Linked DNA regions of Homo sapiens. The protein of the gene in region 1 interacts with the protein of each later gene in a biochemical or structural test. Each region holds a gene or a part of one and is shown in the gene's direction. Other genes may lie near its edges. The genes, in order: CDH13 and ANXA1.

Region 1 (3,830 bases):
AACTTTTGAGGGAGACAGAGAATTACGCATTTCATTAGGTTTTGCAAATGTATTGTACAATTGTGCATAACATTTTCTATTTAAAAATCTCATATCTATTGTTATAGCCCTATCTCATATCTCATTTTTTTAGTGCCTTTTGCTTGTTATTGATTCTATTTGCCTGTTTGTCTATTTTATTGCTTTTTAAATAATGAATTCTGTTATACTGATTATTTTTAATTAAAACAGACCTTCTCTTGTTTGAGGGGTTAGTGTTTTATTTGCTAGTTTTTATGGCTATAGCCTATTTGAATAATCATCTCCAGTTCTTTCCAATTGGAACTTTCTCATTCAAGAGTTTCTTTTTTGGGGGCGTGCAGAGGGGGGTGAGCATCAGGATAAATAGCCAGTGCATGTGGGGCTTAATACCTAGGTGATGGGATGATTTGTGCAGCAAATCACCATGGCACATGTTTACCTATGTAACAAACCTGCACATCCTGCTCATGTACCCCGGAACTTCAATTAAAAAAAAAAAGAAGAAAAAAAAAAAGATTGTATCCTCTACTAAAGGAAGATGGGAAAATGCTGTTTGATTTAATCTGCCATCTCACTAGGTGAGCATCACATTAGTCATTGCTGCTCCTGTCACCTTCTGGTAATGATCATGCTTCATGTATTTTTATTTCCCTGTCATTACTCTCTTGTTTTTTCTCCTGGTTTTACCTAATAGATAAATGCCTTCTAAATGATTTTGTTGTCTCACAGTTTTTTTTTCTGAATATTTAGCCCTGTTTATTCCCAGAAAGGGGCACTTAAAAATACATATGACCCTAATCATGTGAGTGACTTTATCTCAAGGCTAAAGAATAGGCCAGCTGGTGCAGCCACTGCCAAGTGTCACCCAGGGGCCTGGGTGATGGTGGCTATTGCCACCGCACATGACATCAGGGAAGTGGAGGGGAAGCTTAAAGATCCAGTCTCTATGTTGCGGGTTCCCACCCAAATGTAGAGCTGTGGACAGAGGATTGATCAAAAAAAACAAAAACAAGGCTGGACTCAGTGGCTCACACCTGTAATCCCAGCATTTTGGGAGGCCGAGGCAGGCAGATCACCTGAGGTCAGGAGTTTGAGACCAGCATGGCCAATATGGTGAAACCCCATCAGTACTAAATATACAAAAATTAGCTGGGCATGGTAGTGTGTGCCTGTAATCCCAGCTACTCGGGAGGCTAAGGCAGGAGAATCATTTGAACCCAGGATGCGGAGGTTGCAATGAGCCAAGATTGCACCACTGCACTCCAGGCTGGGCAACAGAGTGAGACCCTGTCTCGAAAAAAAAAAAAAAAAAACTAAAGACAAAAAATGTAGGCTATAGAACCCATCTCCATGATAACACATTAGGGTCCTGCCCACATTGAGAGCAGGTGGATTTTCACCTTAGCTTTCTAGATGTGGAACGCAGTCTTTGTCAAGATGGCTTTTTCGTGTAATAAATTTGCAGGGAGGAGTTCTTGGTAATCAATCATCTTCATGAAAGGAGCTCTCCTTGAAACTGATTATAATCGCGCCGAGGCACAGAACTCTGGTGATGGAAACACTCTGTCTCTGTGTTGTTCATTACAGGAGCCAGCAGCCATGTGTGGCTTCTGGGCACTTGGAATGTGGCAGGTGCCACTGAGGATCTGAACTGGTATTTTCACTTGATGTTAATGAATTTAAATGTAAGCATTCGCACAATTATAAATGAAAATGCAATGCCTGTTTGGTGTGACTTTCATCACCAAAACCTCACTCTTTTATTGGAAAAAGTCTCATCCACTCTCACCAGAACCCTCCTTGCCTTTACAGATACACACGCCCTGGTAAGCCTTCTTCAAAATCTGAACAAAGCAAACTACAACCTGCCCATCATGGTGACAGATTCAGGGAAACCACCCATGACGAATATCACAGATCTCAGGGTACAAGTGTGCTCCTGCAGGAATTCCAAAGTGGACTGCAACGCGGCAGGGGCCCTGCGCTTCAGCCTGCCCTCAGTCCTGCTCCTCAGCCTCTTCAGCTTAGCTTGTAAGTTGACCTAACTCCAGTGCATGCACAAACAGGAAATTGTAACTTCACTGGGTTCGTGAAGCCAGCATTTTCCCATATACCTTTCCAAGAAGATGTTTCCCAGAAGAATCATTCATCTTTAGTGTATGTCTGTATGATAGAACATGTTATATGTAAAAGTGCTCCCACTGATGTTTAAAGGCATCTTAACAATCCCTGCCAGCCAGTCTGAGGGATTGTGCAAAGGTGTTCATTGCTAGCCTGCAAACTAGGTGGTAAGCAAAACTTCCTACAGCTGCCACTCAACTTGAGCTAATGAAAATGCGCCCAGATTAGTTAACTAGTCTATCAGAGGCCTGTTTCTCTCTACATTATGCAGAATAATCTTTTGCAAGGTTAAAACAGATATTATGAGACTTTCTGAGAATAGTCGTGAGAATTTATGGATGGAGGGTGGGCTGCAGGGAAAATGATAAATGCATAATTTACACTGTTTTTTCACTGGCTAGTAATAATGACTATAATATCATGAAACATTGTTTTTAACAAATGAATTATTATGCCAAGTAGTATAGATGTGAGGATAAAATTAATAAATACATGTCTCAGATATTCCTTATTTATGAAATACTAGTCCAATGTTAACTTTAGCCGTTATTCATATATAACTGTTACCATCCAAAAGCCTTTTGGGCCTTGCAATTTACCTTTTGAGAACGTATCGGTGTAATTGTGAATTAGGAAGTTGGGAAATTGACAGAAAAAGAAAACAGAAGGTTTTTTATCCTACTGACAGTGGTGAGCTGCCAGGAAATCACATAGTACAACATTGGACATTCACGTATATAAAGCTCTGTGCAAGACCAGAGTCCTGTGAGTAGAAGGAAAAATGAAGGGCCAGGCACGGTGGCTCACACCTATAATCCCACCACTTTGGGAGGTCGAGGTGGGTGGATCATCTGAGATCAGGAGTTCAAGACCAGTCTGGCCAACATGGTGAAACCTTGTGTCTACTAAAAATACAAAAATTAGCCAGCCATGGTGGCACATGCCTGTAGTCCCAGCTACTCGGGAGGCTGAGGCAGCAGAATCACTTGAACCCGGGAGGCGGAGGTTGCAGTGAGCCAAGATCATGCCATTGATCTCCAACCTGGGTGACAGAGCAAGGCTCTGTCTCAAAAAAAAAAAAAAAAAGGAAACAAGAAGCCATTATAGCATTTCACTGGCCCTTCAGACTGGGCATTTCTGAAAGCGAACATATCATCTTCCCCTCCTGACCTGCCCCTCTGCCTGACTTGTCTCTGATGACTGTACCACCACCATCATCATCACCATCATCTCCATGTCTCCTTCCTGGTCTTCCCACTGCAAAGCCCAACAGAGTCTAAGGGTCCAACACTTTCCATCCATCCCTGCCTCCACCCTCCTGTCTCAGGTACTAATGTCACTTAACCTCGATTATCTCACTGGCTTTCTAACTTTATCTTCTGCAAAGAGAGAGAGAAAATAGAAATCAAGAGGCCACCCCTCGGAGGCTTCTCCTGAGTCTTTTCTGTAAAGCAGAGACAATTTCAGATGAAGGGTTAGAGATGGGAGTGGGGACTGAGAAGAAATTAGGAAACCTTGTCAAAGCACAGATAATTCGGCTGTACAGCAATTGGGCTAAACGTTGAGCAGGGGTGGTCCAGAGGAGTTTGTATACTGTCTTAGTCCATTCGGGCTACTATAACAAAATACCATAAACTGGGTGGCTTATAAATAACAGAGATGTATTGCTCATGGTTCTGGAGGCTGAG
Region 2 (3,830 bases), on another chromosome or scaffold:
TAGCTTTTGCATATCATTTTCAGAGGAATTTAATAAAAGAATAAAAATAAGGAAGCTTTTAAACCTCATTTTCTGCAATTCTTATTTAATTACCAATGTTTATGTTAGATCCATGTGTCAGTGGTAATAATGATGATTATTTTTGTTTGATAAAACATAGTTTATAAAAATAAGTGTTTATATATTTTTCATATGGCCAAGATATAGGCCAGTGATAGTTTATTACATTGCCCAGTTTCAAGTTGTTTTAGTCCGTTTGTGTTGCTATAAAGAAATATCTGAGACCAAGTAATGTAAAAAGAAAGGAAATACTGTACAAGTAGTATGGGACCAGCGTCTGCTTTTGATGAGGGCCTCATACTACTTCTACTCATGGCAGAAAGCAGACAGAAGCAGATGTGTGCAGAGAGGGAGAGAGAGAAAAGGAGGTGCCAGGCTCTTTTCAACAGCCAGTTCTTAAAGAAACTATGAATGAGAACTCACTCCGAGCCATTCATGAGGGATCTGCCCCCATCATCCAAACATCTCCCAACAGGCCCCACCTTCAACAGTGGAGAATAAATTGCAACATGAGACTTGGCAGGGCCAAACAAACAATATGAAAACCATAGCACTAGTCAATTATAAATTCAATTATTTTTTCCTATTACAGTATTATTTTATGTAGTTAAGCAGAAGTGTTTACACACACATAAATCATCAAACTGCATTACTTATAAGACATTTATAGTTTTTAAACTAAATAAATAATTTGCATTCAAGCAAGTACCTCATTTTGTTCTTTTAAACAATTATTTTATTCATTCTATTGCTTAAATTCTGCCATGTTGTATTTCAGAATTAATTACTAATGTATACCTATACAATTTATTCTTAACGAAAGCTTTATGACTGTGAGTTTTCAATCACAGTATTATCTAAATTGCTCCCATTGCTTCATATGAAATAAATTCAATGATCCAAAAATTTACCTGCTTTAATTTTTCTCTTCTTATTTAAAAATGATAATATTTTGCAACATGTTCCATAAGTCATTGAACACTGTGGCACTGTGAATTTTCAACCAACTTAGAGATGTCAGATATTCTTATTATTATTCATCACTGGTTTACTATAAAATCTATTTTTCTTTTTTCTCAGAACTGAAGAGAGATCTGGCCAAAGACATAACCTCAGACACATCTGGAGATTTTCGGAACGCTTTGCTTTCTCTTGCTAAGGTACAACTCAGATACTTTAGGAAATGCCTCTTGTTTTATAAAGACTAATTTCTTAGTCCATTTTGTGTTGCTATAAGGGAATATCTGAGGCTAGGTAATTTTTAAAGATAAAAAGGTTTATTTGGCTCAGGATTCTGATGGCTAACAAATTCAAGTTTGGGTATCTATGTCTGGTGAGAGCCTCAGGCTGCTTCCACTCCTGACAGAAGAGGAAAGGGAGCTGGTGTGTGCAGAGACCACATGGCAAGAAAGGAAGCAAGAGAGAGAATGGGGAGGTGCCAGCCTCGTTAACAACCAGCTCTCGTGGTTCTCATGAGCAAGAACTCATTCCCAGTGACGGCATTAATCTCTTCATGAGAGATCAGCCCCAGGACCCAAATACCTCCCTCTAGGCCCCACCTTTAACACTGGGGATCAAATTTCAACATGAGGTTTGGAGGGGAAGAACATCTAAAACCATCGCAAGTAAAATCTTGTATCTGAGCTCCTTCTAGAAATGAGTAATAGAATACCTTTTTCTCAAAAAATATTATTTATCTGAGTTTAAGATAATTAAGTAAATCATGCAATTACATGCTAGAGAAGAGCTTACAATAGAATGGGATTTCTTTCAGGGTGACCGATCTGAGGACTTTGGTGTGAATGAAGACTTGGCTGATTCAGATGCCAGGGTAAGGAAGTGCTTACAAAATACTGCTGCAGTTCATCTTCCTACCTTAAGTGGGGCTACCACATGATCCCCTGTGAAAGCAAATCTAAGATCTTCTGAGAGACCAATGGCTTCTTAATGTTCATTTCCTGAATGAGGCATGTCTTTCTGTAGCCCCCACACACAAAAAAGTAGTCTTTGTAAGTTTTCAATATCTCTCATTATTCGTAAAACCAGAGAGAACTGAAGAAGGACAATACAAATTTGATTTGTCATTCCCAAGAATTGTTTGTTAAAAAAAACTCTGACCTTTCGTTGTACTAGGTATAAGAAGGGGAAATGTAATTTTTTTATTATGTGCAATGGAAAGAGTAAGCATATTTAACGTTATTTTTAACAGAGAACTTTGGAATGGTTTATAGATGTCAATTTATATTGTCAAAATATTACTGCAATGATATAACAAGAGTATAGGATAAATTATAATAATATATGCTTTCTAACATATTGTTTTATTTAGTTTCAGTGACATTGCTGATTATTTATATGCCAAACCACTGGCAACATAAGAAAAATCATATCATTTTAAAGCCTGGAATTTCCATTTAAAACAAACAAACAACTAATATTTGCATTATGCCTTCTCATGGAACAGTATTCTCTAGAGAATTCATTACAGTGCTTCACTAAGGATAGAGATTTCTTTGTGCACCCCCATCCACTTCTGCTATACCAGTACATTATCATGTACATAATAGGCACTCATGAACTTTTTGTTCAACAAATGCATACATATCAGATCAATTTGCTTGAAAAATGCAAAATAATTTTTACATACATTGAAGGTTTTATCATTTTAATAGAAATTGTTCAAGCATATTAAGGAACAAGAGTTAGCATTTGAATAATTGCCCATAATAAAAAATTCTTATTTGCTTTTGACATTTCTGAATTTGCTTTCCATTTTAAGACTATCAGGGTTCTTAATATATATTTATGGAGGTTACATGGATTAGTGTGACCCAAGAGAATGATGGTAGTCAACATTTCAAAGTTAATAAAGACCGCTTGTGACAATAGGGCAGGGATTATATTTTTCATATATAAAAGAAAAAAATCTGTCATTTAGTAAGGTTGATCTATTTGTCTAAGATTATGCAGCTTTGAAATTGCAGAGTCAGAATTTGAATACAGAAATTCTAACATCAAAATGCAAGGTCCAGGTTACGGTTGAATTATTGATTTATAAGTAACATTTGCTGATAATTACTTTGAACAACACAGAGTAAAAAATCTTTAGAGATCCCCTTGGAGTTGTCTTACTATAGAGCATAATCTTAAAGCAATTTAGTTCAGCAAACATTTATTCTGCAAACATATATTCAGACTCTAGTGTTTACAAGGCACCTTGAGAGAAACTGTGGAAGATATTTGACAAACAAAATAAGGTCCCTATCTTTAAAGAACTTGCAATCTTATTGTTGACTACTCTGATTGTATTGGGCACAAAGCGATTGCCTATATAATCTTTGACAAGGTCTAACATTATTGTGCAGATATCATTTCAGCAGATAGTGAAGTGTTTACTTTTGTGTTTCTTGACAGGCCTTGTATGAAGCAGGAGAAAGGAGAAAGGGGACAGACGTAAACGTGTTCAATACCATCCTTACCACCAGAAGCTATCCACAACTTCGCAGAGGTAACAATAAATTTCTTTTTCTGGAATCTGTTTATGGAAGATGCAATTTTCTTTTTTGATGACAAATAAGAGAAAGTAAAAACAGAACCCTTTTTCAATATCACTCCTGTATCAAACAGATACAGTGTTCCTGACCCATTGTTATTTGTCAATTTGTCCAATTTTGTACAGCCGCTACTTTATCATATTTAATACATTTTGTGACTTGGGCATGTGGAACATAATTTTGTTATTTTCACTGCTTTTACTCCCCTAAAAGATT

The links.
Region 2: the proteins of CDH13 (region 1) and ANXA1 interact in a test that uses a peptide from one of them, tested with the Homo sapiens proteins (one large-scale study listed by BioGRID).

Annotation. Positions count from the first base shown.
Region 1 is NC_000016.10:83,781,421-83,785,250, forward strand, and holds part of CDH13 (cadherin-13 isoform 1 preproprotein), read left to right. Parts: intron 1-1,833; coding exon 1,834-2,052; intron 2,053-3,830.
Region 2 is NC_000009.12:73,161,642-73,165,471, forward strand, and holds part of ANXA1 (annexin A1), read left to right. Parts: intron 1-1,140; coding exon 1,141-1,220; intron 1,221-1,834; coding exon 1,835-1,891; intron 1,892-3,474; coding exon 3,475-3,568; intron 3,569-3,830. UniProt on the Homo sapiens protein: Plays important roles in the innate immune response as effector of glucocorticoid-mediated responses and regulator of the inflammatory process. Has anti-inflammatory activity.